Linked DNA regions of Homo sapiens: region 1 is linked to region 2. Evidence: fine-mapped QTL for protein levels in blood plasma. A gene starts in region 2. The other region holds a variant in brackets. All regions are shown on one strand. Distances are between the middles of the regions. Region 1 has its middle 120 kb from the start of LINC02529. Region 2 holds the start of FNDC1 (fibronectin type III domain containing 1).

What was found. A credible set is the group of variants that fine-mapping cannot tell apart. PIP is the chance, under the fine-mapping model, that this variant and not a neighbour inherited with it causes the effect. Protein levels are from antibody-based Olink assays in UK Biobank. Linkage for the fine-mapping came from a reference panel and not from the study's own genotypes, which makes the PIPs less certain.
Region 1: its variant is the best candidate, but not a certain one, in a credible set for the plasma level of the FNDC1 protein (UK Biobank, PIP 0.85).

What each region holds. Positions count from the first base shown.
Region 1 is chr6:159,500,945-159,506,312 of GRCh38, reverse strand. No RefSeq gene overlaps it. Among named protein-coding and RNA genes, the nearest start is that of LINC02529, 120 kb to the right of the region's middle. The variant G/C (reference allele first, on the strand shown) is at 2,391.
Region 2 is chr6:159,166,650-159,171,991 of GRCh38, reverse strand. It overlaps FNDC1 (fibronectin type III domain containing 1), which reads right to left and starts at 2,592. Exons shown (of 23, transcript NM_032532.3): 1 at 2,287-2,592. The coding sequence starts at 2,395. FNDC1-AS1 (FNDC1 antisense RNA 1) reads left to right here and starts at 1,985. Exons shown (of 4, transcript NR_121668.1): 1 at 1,985-2,180; 2 at 3,231-3,459; 3 at 4,638-4,743. RefSeq lists an enhancer at 1,238-1,737 and a silencer at 2,544-2,713.

The DNA of each region.
Region 1 (5,368 bases), 330 kb before region 2:
CCTCATATATGTGAGGTTGTGTGAACAGGAACCACCAGAGTGGCTGGGAGTTCAGTGAGGGCAGGGGTGTGTCTTCCCTGTCCCCATAATTTATACCGCAGAGTGCAGAGGCCCCTGATGACAAGATGCAGGAACTTTTAAAAGCCATCTGAGGAACTTCTAAAAAGATCCGTGCCTTCTGCTTCACCTCCCCTCCAATTGGAGGTGAGGATTCCCGAGGTGAGGGCAGGATGGCTGGGCGTCAGTATTATGAAAATGTCCCCCAGGCCCAGGGCTGGGCCCACTGCTGTGGGGGGCAGCTCAGCAGAGCTGTGCGGCTGTCCATGACATGGGAGACCCTCCCTAGGGGTGGCACAGGGAGGTTGTCTTGGGGAGAGGACAGGCACCCTGATATTTGAACTGGGACCTTCCCTTCTCCTTTCTTTCCCTGCCTCATGCGGTGGAGGGCAGGGACCCAGCCTGGAGGGTTTGGGGATGAGGTCATGGTCAAGGAGAGCTCTGGGCGCTGGGCTCGGGCTGCCTGGCCAGACTCAGGTGGGTGGGGCAGGAGCTGGAGTTGGCCTAGTTGTTCCAGGAGAGTCTGTTTTTCTAAAGGAAAAAGAATCATGCTAACGAGCCTGGCGCCCTCCTGAACGTCTCTAACAGGCCCCGTTCTGACTGGGAACTCTGGCTGTGCGCCCTCTGCTTCAGCCTAGGGCCAAGGAGGTCCCCTAAGAGAGGACTCTAGGCAGCTCAGCCTGCCTCATCAACCCAGGCAGGGCTCAGGGGTTGCCTTGGCGGCACTTCCCGAAGCAGACCCCATCCCGCCGTCATCCTGCACCTTCACTCATCCCGGGTCTCCTGCCACCTGCGTCATGGCACAGGGAGGCGGTTGCCCTTTGTTACAGGATGAAAGCTTCGAAGTCTCCACTCATTTGCTCACCTCGCTTCTCATTTGCAGAGCTCTGAGCTTGGCTGGGGTAGAGCACACCCAGGCTCTGACACAGTGGGAAACAAGCTTGGTGTTCAGTTTTGGCTGTGACACTGTCTTCCAGAGAATAATCCGGGCTACGAATTCTCTGGCAGGAACATGAAGTCCATCTGGCTGAGGGGTCTTTGCCCTGACACTCTCAGATGTGGTGCCCTGGTGTTCTGTTCCCATTGCTCAAAGCTGGACCCTGCAGCTTCCAGCCAAGGGCACCAGCATAAACCATTGTGTGTGGGTTCCACGTGGGGGCTTTCAGCCGGGGCTGTTTTGCTCAGGAGGCGATGTCTGCCTAGGTCTGGAGTCCAACAAGGCAAGCTCACTGAGGGCCCAGGGAAATTCCTGGGCAAAAACTCCTCTTAGGGAAAGAGAGATGAGGGGAAACAGCCTGGGTTGGTGACAACAGGCCCTGTGGGGGCCTGGGCTGTACTGACCACAGCTTGGTGTGTATCACCCAGTGTCCATGCAGACCTGCCCTCAGCCTACACCCCGTCCATTCCGCGGTGGGCACCAGGAACCTTGGCAGGGCATCAGGCTGGCAGCCAGGGAGCATGGCAACCTGGTGGACATGGTGGCAGCAGCAGCGCCTGGGGCTGACATCAGTTGCCTCTTTTACTGGGGAGAGGAGTAGAGAAAAGAAAAATGGTGGGTGTGGCACCTGACACGGAGACTCCTATGGTCTGGAAGGATGTGAGGTGCTGCCTAGAGCAAGCAAGCACGCAGCCGGAGAAGGACAGTGCTCACACTGCAACCACCCGGCCCAGCACGGTGTGAAAGCACAAGCACCTACAGGACAGTCCTTAGACACACGAGACACTTCCCAGGGCTGCTCCCAGGAGTGCAGGAACCTCCCACCACCACAGCACCAGCTCATCCTTCGACTTTCCTGCTTACCAGAAGCTGGGCATCTGGCTGTTTTGAGCAGGCCCAGCACGGCCTTTGCATGCTTGGGAGGAAACCTCGCCTCGCAGAACTGCACAACAGGTGCATGCCGTGTGGTAGGATTTGGAGAGTTTCAGGATAGTTCAGCTTGGCCGTTTTCCTCCACGTGGGTTTGACAGTGTCTGGAACTCTGCCAGGAGGAATGCCCCATTGGCACAGCCCTCTTCTAACTCCAAGAAGGGGATACTCCTGGATCACAGCTTTCCATAAATAGTTAGGTATTGTTCACACCAGGATGTGTGATCTCCTGGAAGAGGGTTTAAAGGCTCTTGCTCCTGGGGGCTGCCTTCCACTGCAGCTTAGGGAGGACGTCTCACAACTCCTTACGCCTTCATTTTTAGTACAGTGACCTTGGCTTTGCAGATGCTTACATTTTTTGTTCGTTTTTTTTTTTTTTTTTTTTTTTTTTGAGACGGAGTCTCGCTCTGTCGCCCAGGCTGGAGTGCAGTGGCGCGATCTCGGCTTACTGCAAGCTCCGCCTCCC[G/C]GGTTCACGCCATTCTCCTGCCTCAGCCTCCCGCGTAGCTGGGACTACAGGCGCCCGCCACCACGCCCGGCTACTTTTTTGTATTTTTTAGTAGAGACGGGGTTTCACTGTGTTAGCCAGGATGGTCTCGATCTCCTGACCTCGTGATCCGCCCGCCTCGGCCTCCCAAAGTGCTGGGATTACAGGCGTGAGCCACCGCGCCCGGTTTTTGTTCGTTTTTTAAAAGAGCTACCTGGGTTAGGTGTGTGTAGAAGGTTAGTTAACATTATCTGAGCTGATACTTACCATATGCTAATATATAATATGGCTCCTAATGCTATTAAAGTGCTGACTTCTGAGACCAGATTTGCTCCCTGTCAGCAGAAACTCTTTCTCGCTCATGGCTGGCCTCTGCGTTTTCAGCCCCAGGGCTGAACTGACACATTTTGTTGAGTGAGTGTAACCCACAGGTATGAGTAAGTAACATATGAAATCTCAAAGGTCCAACAAGACAATCACTTAGCAAGTGGATGGTATGCCTTTTTTGTTGTTGTTTTTGTTTTGTTTTGAGATGGAGTCTCTCCCTGTGGCCTAGACTGGAGTGGCATGATCTGAGTTCACTGCAACCTCTGCCTTTCAGGTTCGAGCGATTCTCCTGCTTCAGCCTCCCGAGTAGCTGGGACTACAGGCGTGCACCACCACGCCCGGCTAATTTTTTTTGTATTTTTAGTAGAGACAGGGTTTTGCCATGTTGGCCAGGCTGGTCTAAAACTCTTGACCTCTGGTGATCTGCCAGCCTCGGCCTCTCAAAGTGCTGGGATTACAGGCACGAGCCACTGCGCCTGGCCTAAGTAGATGGGTTTTAATCCCAGACATAGGAAAGACAGGACGCAACCTGGGGAAAAGAAGGGTGAGGATTAGGGACTTCATCCAGCCTCAGCATGAAGGACTCGACTTTCCCTATCCAAACCCAGGAAGAGCTAAACCCTCCATCCGTAGCTCTAGAGGCCTTAGTGAGCATCTGGCATTCTGCTGAGTGTGTTTGACTTGGGGAGGGTTCCATCTCCAGCAATTCTTGCAGCTGATAAATTTTTACAGCAGAAAGTACTTGATCATCAGCAGGAAGTTGATGAAGACTGTGTACTTGAGGCCGAGAGATTTTTGTGTGTTTCAAAACGGAAAGGTGAGAATTTGTAGATAAAGAAATTGAGCTCTATCTGAAGCTGGGATAGGAGGTTTGATGCCTGGAATTGAGCAGGCCAGTGTGGATCTGATCGAGGACAGACAGAATCAGGATGTGGAGTTTGGTAGAAGAGCCTGAACTTGAGCAAGACCAGGCCAGAGGTGGCAGTGTCCAAACCACACTATGGATGTATCTGTATGTTTTGTGTAATTTTTCGTATGCAACTGTGTTTCATTTGTTTTTTAATCCCTTGGCCTGTGTCCACTACCCATTAATTAGAGGCTAACACATACTTTGTCTTCTAATGGCTATTACTAGATTTGGTTTCTCACTTACAAAATAACTTCCTCCAGTCCTTAGGTCTCAACTTTTTCTTCTTTTTGGTTGGGATTTGGGGATTGGCAATGACAAATCTTTCATACTTTTTGTGGGGTGTTTATGGGCTTCTTGAAGTCTTAGGCACTGAGAAAACATGCAAAGATTGCTCTGTCTCCTCCAACCCAATTTTTCAATTTACCCCACCCCTAATTGTTGTGTTCATCTTCCTAGTATTTTGGGACTGTATGAACAGCAGATGTGAACCTACTTTTCAGGTGGAGAAAGCAAGACACAGAGCTGTTCAGACAATCAGAGTTAATAATGTGTTTGAAAGAGTTTTGTCTTCTAAAATCTACATAAATATGAACTACTGCTTCTGTTGGAAGAATTTAGAAGTTGCTGTGTTCTTGATGGGTCTGCAGAGAAGTGGGAAGCAGGGACCACAGATGCATTTGGTTGCTCTGTGAGCTGATCTTCTAGAGCATATGTATATATTTTTTATCTCTAAGGCATCATCCTTTCTTCCCAGAAATTCTTTCAACAAGTTGTGTGTGTCATGCAGGAGATATCAATAATCATTCCTTTGGTTGTACCACCTGTAGGTAAAAGCTTGATGTAGGTGGTATTTTGGGATCTGGTAATTTATGGGTTTTTGTTCAATTTAGAGAAGACATTCAAACTTTCAGGCCTGCATTGTCAGCATATAATATGGTCCTACTCTGAGATGATTCTCAAATTTTAGACAAAGTCAGAAGGTCATTCTCTAAAAGTCACTAAGAAAAGTCAACATAATGAATGAACTTAGACCATCTGCAGAAGGTTCCTACCTAAAGAAGTGATTTGTTAATGTATCACCAACAGAGACTTGGAAAACACATAAGTTTGCTTGTTGTAACAAGACATGGCTTCAGGAAGACAGGTTAAGAATGTTGACCTAACAGAAGATGATAACACAGGTGATGGTTTTGTAACTTGCCTATCAGAAAACGATGTTGTTAGTGGTGATTTATTTAAAAAGGAGTAAAAGAGTATGGACATTTGTGTTTATTTAATAGCATATGAAGTATAGATGGAAGCCTCAAGATTTTTCATTGTTGCTTTGGTTTTGTTTTTACTTTTTTATTTTGAAATGATTTTCAGATTTACAGAAAAGTTGCAAGAATAGTACAAAGAATTTCCATATACCTTTACTTAGATCCCCTAAATGTTAACATTTTGCCACATTTGTTTTCTTTCTTTCTCTGTCCCCGTGTGTGTGTGTGTGTGTGTGTGTGTGTGTGTGTGTGTGTGTGTGTGCTGTATTTCCATAACAAACATCTAGTTTTACTTAAGTTGTTTATTGGCTGGGGGAGGCAGTGTGAAGTGGGGTGGTGGGTGGTGGGGGGTATGCTGATGGAATTTCTGGGAAGGAGCATTAATGTCTCTTGAAATTTATTGCTTTGTCTCATTATTTACAAGTATTTTATCATTTTGCAAAGAAGTAATCTGACATCTTGCT
Region 2 (5,342 bases):
CAGTAAGACACCCGCAGTTTACCCATCAAGCTTTTGCACCCTCAGTGCAAATGTCAACTGTGAAAAAGGAAAATAGCATCTTAGTAATCTTAGTATTACTTTGAAAATAGTTTTGACATGGAAAATTCCCTAAAAGCTTCTTTAAAGAAGAAAATAAAAATCATCCCTAACCATCCTAAGATACCCACTGCAAATATGTGCATGTGTGAGTACATCCACATGTGTTTAGAAAAATGTATCATACCAGACTGGCAAGGCCATCATAATTTTAATGTTTGCATAGTATCCTATTGTAGGGATGAATATGAGTGGAGGAGGGGACACTGCTTGCTTATTTTGTTTTATGTTTAATTGACCCTACACTGAAGGGCTTATCCAGATCTTCAGTGTGTCCTGCTTTAAGCAAAGTCCCTCGGAGCCACTATTATGTGGCCGTGGGTAATTTCCTTACAGAGATTCTGGCCCCAAAAGGGTGGTGAAGGGGAGAGCTTGACACAAGCAGCTCGCTTGGTCCATGCATTAGTTCAACCAGAGAGAGGGAGCAGTCTATCCATGACGTTGCTGTCAAAGGGAGCCCATGAAAGAAGTTATGTACCCCATAATTTCATCCACAGCATGGGGAGCTATCTACAGGTTGCTATGTCTGTTTCTATCCTTCTATTACTTAATTTAAATTTAGTAGATTTCATTCTGAAATGTGCCTGTCCTCCTTTGTCCACCTCTAGTCTGGTCATCATTTGACTGTAGATCCCACGTCAACACAGTAGAGAGAAGGGCTGGGAAGCTGTCCAGCCCCAGCATTCCTCAGCACAGTGATTCACAGAGCAGAAGGCGAAAAAGCAAGAGTGCAGATCGCGGTGGGATTCCAGGAGCTCTCACAAACAACCCCGCTCGGACCCACTCACATGCAACCCACGGGCAGGTGGCAGAGGAATCGGAAAAGCAGAAGGCTGGAATCGCCACAAAGCCAGGGCAGCACTGGTTCCAGTTTCAGATCATTTTCAGAAACAAAAACTCTTCCAGCACTCTGAAAATTTTCACTTAGAAAAACAAAAGCCAGGAGTTGTAGGTGGGGAAGTTGGAAGACTTTATTTAGTTTTATTCCTCTCAAGTACTGTGCAAAGTATTCAGTGAATACTTTCCTAGAGTTCACTAATGGGAAGAAAAAGACCCTACGGCAGGCACTGCCTTTTATGAGAAAGTGGCATTGGCATCAGAATACCTCGCATAAACCTGAGCCAAGCATTGGGATGATGTATCTACCAAAAAGTCACAAAGTAATGTGATCCCCAACTTTTCTTCCTTTACCCCTGAAGTAAGAGAACAATATATACACTAAATAGCATCATAAAACTGGTACCCTCGTTGGAATAGTATCTGACGATCATTGTCTGCTTCTTGGATTTCTACAAACCAATAACCTAAAAGCCAGTTTCAAGTGTAAAAATGCCTGCAAAGGAGGTGGTAACAAGGGCCGCCAAAGGCTTAGGAATGAAAACCTCGCCACAAACTTGTCTCTCTCTGCAGGAAGCTTGCAAGAAATCTGACAGGAGCGCGCTAGCATTTTCTGAAAAGCATTGCTCTCAAAGGAAGCATCCATCCTGGCTGCAGCCTCAGCCATTGGGGAAGGGCGAGTTTCTCTGGAATCAGCTTTCTCATTTCCCTCTCCCTCCTCTCAAGACAAACATTTTCTCCCAGCTTGAACGTTCCCCCCGGGCGCGCGGGCCTCCTGCCGCCTGGAGCCGAGCTGGCACTGGAGCGCTTCTCCTCTGGAGCGCAGAGGCACCCGACGCCCTGCGGCAGCTCGCAGCCTTTCCCCCACGACCTTCTAGAACAGCCCTGCTCTGCCTCCCTCCGGTCTCCCGAGTGCGCCCGTCATCCTGCCTCGCGAGAGGTGAACGCGGAGAAAGTAGGATGACCACCTACGCTCCCGAGAAATTCTGGGCAAAGAAAGGCATTACCCCAGTCCGCACGCTGAAAGTCGCCTTTCTTTTCCTTTTTTCCCCGCTGTGCCTGAATCTCCCGGGACACTTAGACGGCTGGAGCCTCCCGACTCCAAGGCGGGCGACGGCAAAGTTAAACGCCAGCGCGCTGCGGTCCCCGGGCACCGAGGCGTCCCCGCTCCCGCCACCCACACAGGGCGCCAAGTGCCCCGACCCGCGAGTGACGAGGACGCACAGGCTAGTGACACGACCCGTAGCCAGCACTGAGCGGGACGACGGGGCCCGAGCGCAGGAGGGTGCGCGGGGAGCTGAGGAGCGCCGGGGGCCCGGGCGCGGCGCGTACCTGAGGCCGCCGCCGAGGAGGCGACGGGGAGCAGCGCGGCCAAGAGCAGCAGCGCCGCCCAGGACAGCCGGCGCGGCGCGCGCAGGGTCGCCCCGGCCTCGGGGGCCATCGAGAGCCCGGGGTGGGCCGGGGCTGGGTGCTTGCGGCTGGCAGGGGGGCGCTGGCCGGAGTCTGGGGAGTGCCGAGGCGCCGCCGTCGGGTCCCCGCCGCCGTCCGTCTGTTCTGCGCGCTCTGCGCGGTGCCCGCCGCGCCCCTGCCCCGCGGCGATCGCTCCCGGCCGCACACCGGCAGCCGCGCTCCGCCACTGAGGCCGCCGACCTCCCGCCGAGCCTTTTAGCTGCGCTCGGGCGCCCCCTGCCGGTGTGCGGGGCCGGGGCCAGGGCCGGCGGGGGCGACCCGGGCGACAGGGGCGACGGGGGCGGCGGGGCCCGGGCTGGAGGCGGGCGGGGCGCGGGACGAAGGGGCCGGAGCGCCCCGGACTGACTTAGCGGTTCTGAACTTGGGGCGGTCGCTGTGCCGGGCCAAGTGGCTGAGGAAGTTCCTCCCCTCGTCTAACCCTCTCATTTTCTGGCTGGGGAAGTCGCCCATCGCGCCGAGGAGTGCCCTTTGTCCCCTTACAGAAACACCTCTGCGCCCCAAGTGGGGACTCGGGCCGGGACCCCTCACCCGGTCCGCAGCGCTGTAGTTCCTGTGGCTAGCCCAGTCCTTCCACGTCCCTACCCGCACCCGGCGCGCCCACGTCAGGGGTTTTCAGCGTCCTTAGACCCTGCTCCGTCTGGCTGTCATTTCTAGGGCGCGCACGATGCGGGTCGAAAAGGAACCCAGTTTTCAGTGTGCCTTGTTGCCCAGGCCAAGGACTCAGCGGACCTCGCCTCTCCCTTTTCTGTAATTGTAACACTGCCCCAGGTCTCCCTATTCCTCCTTCTCCCTATTCCTCCTTCCAGCCTGGAAGCCTCGCGGCCCTCCAGATGGACTCGGAGCGCCCCTGGAGGCTACAGTGACCTAAGCTCTAGGAAGGCCGGGTCCTGGACGCCGCGTGCTGCTGTCCGCCGCCGACCGGTGTCCTCGCAGAGATAACCTGGCTGAACTCACCGCCCAGCGCTATGTCAGTTCTCCCTCATGACAACCCAAAACTTGACCGGATTTGTGTTCTGCAGAGAGGAAAAAAAAAAGGTAAATGAATTGCAAAGAGATGAAAACCAGAAATACAGTATCTCTTTGAATTTGAGCACCCAGGAAAGGTGTAAACCTACCGCCTTCCTTTCCAGGAAACTCTCCTGCTTCCCAGCAAAGGTTTTTGTTTGTTTGTTTTTCTTTTTCTTTTTGTTTTGAGACAGGGTCTCCCTCTGCCTCTGCCGCCCAGGCTGGAGTGCAGTGGTGCAGTCTTGGCTCACTGCAACCACCATATCCCAGGCTCAAGCCATTCTCCTGCCTCAGCCTCCTAAGTGGCTGGGACTACAGGTTTCAGCCACCATGCCCAGCTCATTTTTGTATGTTTTGTAGAGACAGGGTTTCCCCACGTTGCCCAGGCTGGTCTCCAACTCCTGAGCTCAAGCAATCCGCCCACCTTGGCCTCCCAAAGTGCTGGGATTACAGGCGTGAGCCACCACGCCCAGCCCAAACACACTTTCCTGCATTACTCCCTTATGTTATCATGTTTCCCCACATGCCATTTAATGGAGCTGTGTGGTTTCTGTCTCACCAGCAGCCACCCGGCTCTGCCTATTTTGGGGGAATGGTAGCTCCCTCCCCAACTCCAACCAAGTGACAGGCCCCCTCCTTACTCCCACTCCTTCCCAAAGCCCCACTTCCCCACTGGCTCAGGGCTCTGCAGTGGCCTAGACAGGGTCACTCAGAGTTGGGACTCTTCTAACACGGGCTGGTGGAAAGGTCTCTTTCTCCCATCATTCGTGGATTTGGAAGGATGGTAGCCATGGCAGGCTGAAACACAGCCTTCCTCCCCAAAAAGACATTCCTGTCCTAGTCCCTGACCCTGTGAATGTCACCTTACATGGTTTATTAAAAAGCAATTAAGCATGCTGAGACAGAGAGATTATCGTGGATTATCTGGGTGGGCCCTAATGCAGTCATGTATGTAACTTATAAAACAGAGGAGAGGGAGATTGACGCACACAAGAGAAATCCAGGTGAGGACGGAGGCAGCCATGGGAACGATGCACCCACAGCCCAGGGATGCTGGCAGCCCTCACCAGAGGCTGGAAGAGGCTCCTCCAGAGCCTGTGCTGGACTTCAGGCCAGTGGAACTGATTTCAGACTTCTGGCCTCCAAGACTGAGAGAGCAGATTTCTGTTGTTTAAGCCACCCACCCCGTTTGTAATTACTTCTTACAGCGGCCACCGAACACCAGTGCAGTAGCCAGGATGGGCCTGTGGCTCTGGCTGCAGCCTCCAGGGACACCAGCTGGAGAGAAGGAAGCCACGCATGGAGAGCGGCCAGGTGGGTAGAAAAGAGCCGGGCAGATGCAAGAGTCCCGGGCTCCACCTCACCCCTGCGCTTTCTGAACGCTGGTTCTGGGGACAGCACATTCCCTTTTGCTAACTTGGAATGAGATTTCTATTTTCTATAACCAATGAGTCTTGACTAGTGCACTCCCCCCTGTTCTTAAGAGGACAAGAACCAAGACTTATCTTTATTGCTCATCTGTCACCCAAAAGAGGCCATCACAGAACCAAACACAGTAATATCCAGGAAATGCTGAGGTTAATTGCCATTCATTCATTCATTCAGCAAATACTTATTGTGATCTACTCTGTCCCCAGCACTGCTGTAGACCCCGGGGATTAGCAGTGACTGAAAGCAGATGAATAGCAGGAGTTAAGTTAAAAGCAGAGAAGGGGAGGCAGCACTGAGGACTTTACAGGCTGCAGGAAGGGTTTAGGCTTTCAATCTGAGAGGTGAAGGGCAACACTGGAGAATTCTGATCAGAGGAGACACGGGTAAGCAGGCTCTTACAATCCCAGTGAGGCAAGACGGTGCTTGGACATGATGGACAGCAGTGGGGCACGAGAACCAGTGAGGTTCTGGATGCATCTTAA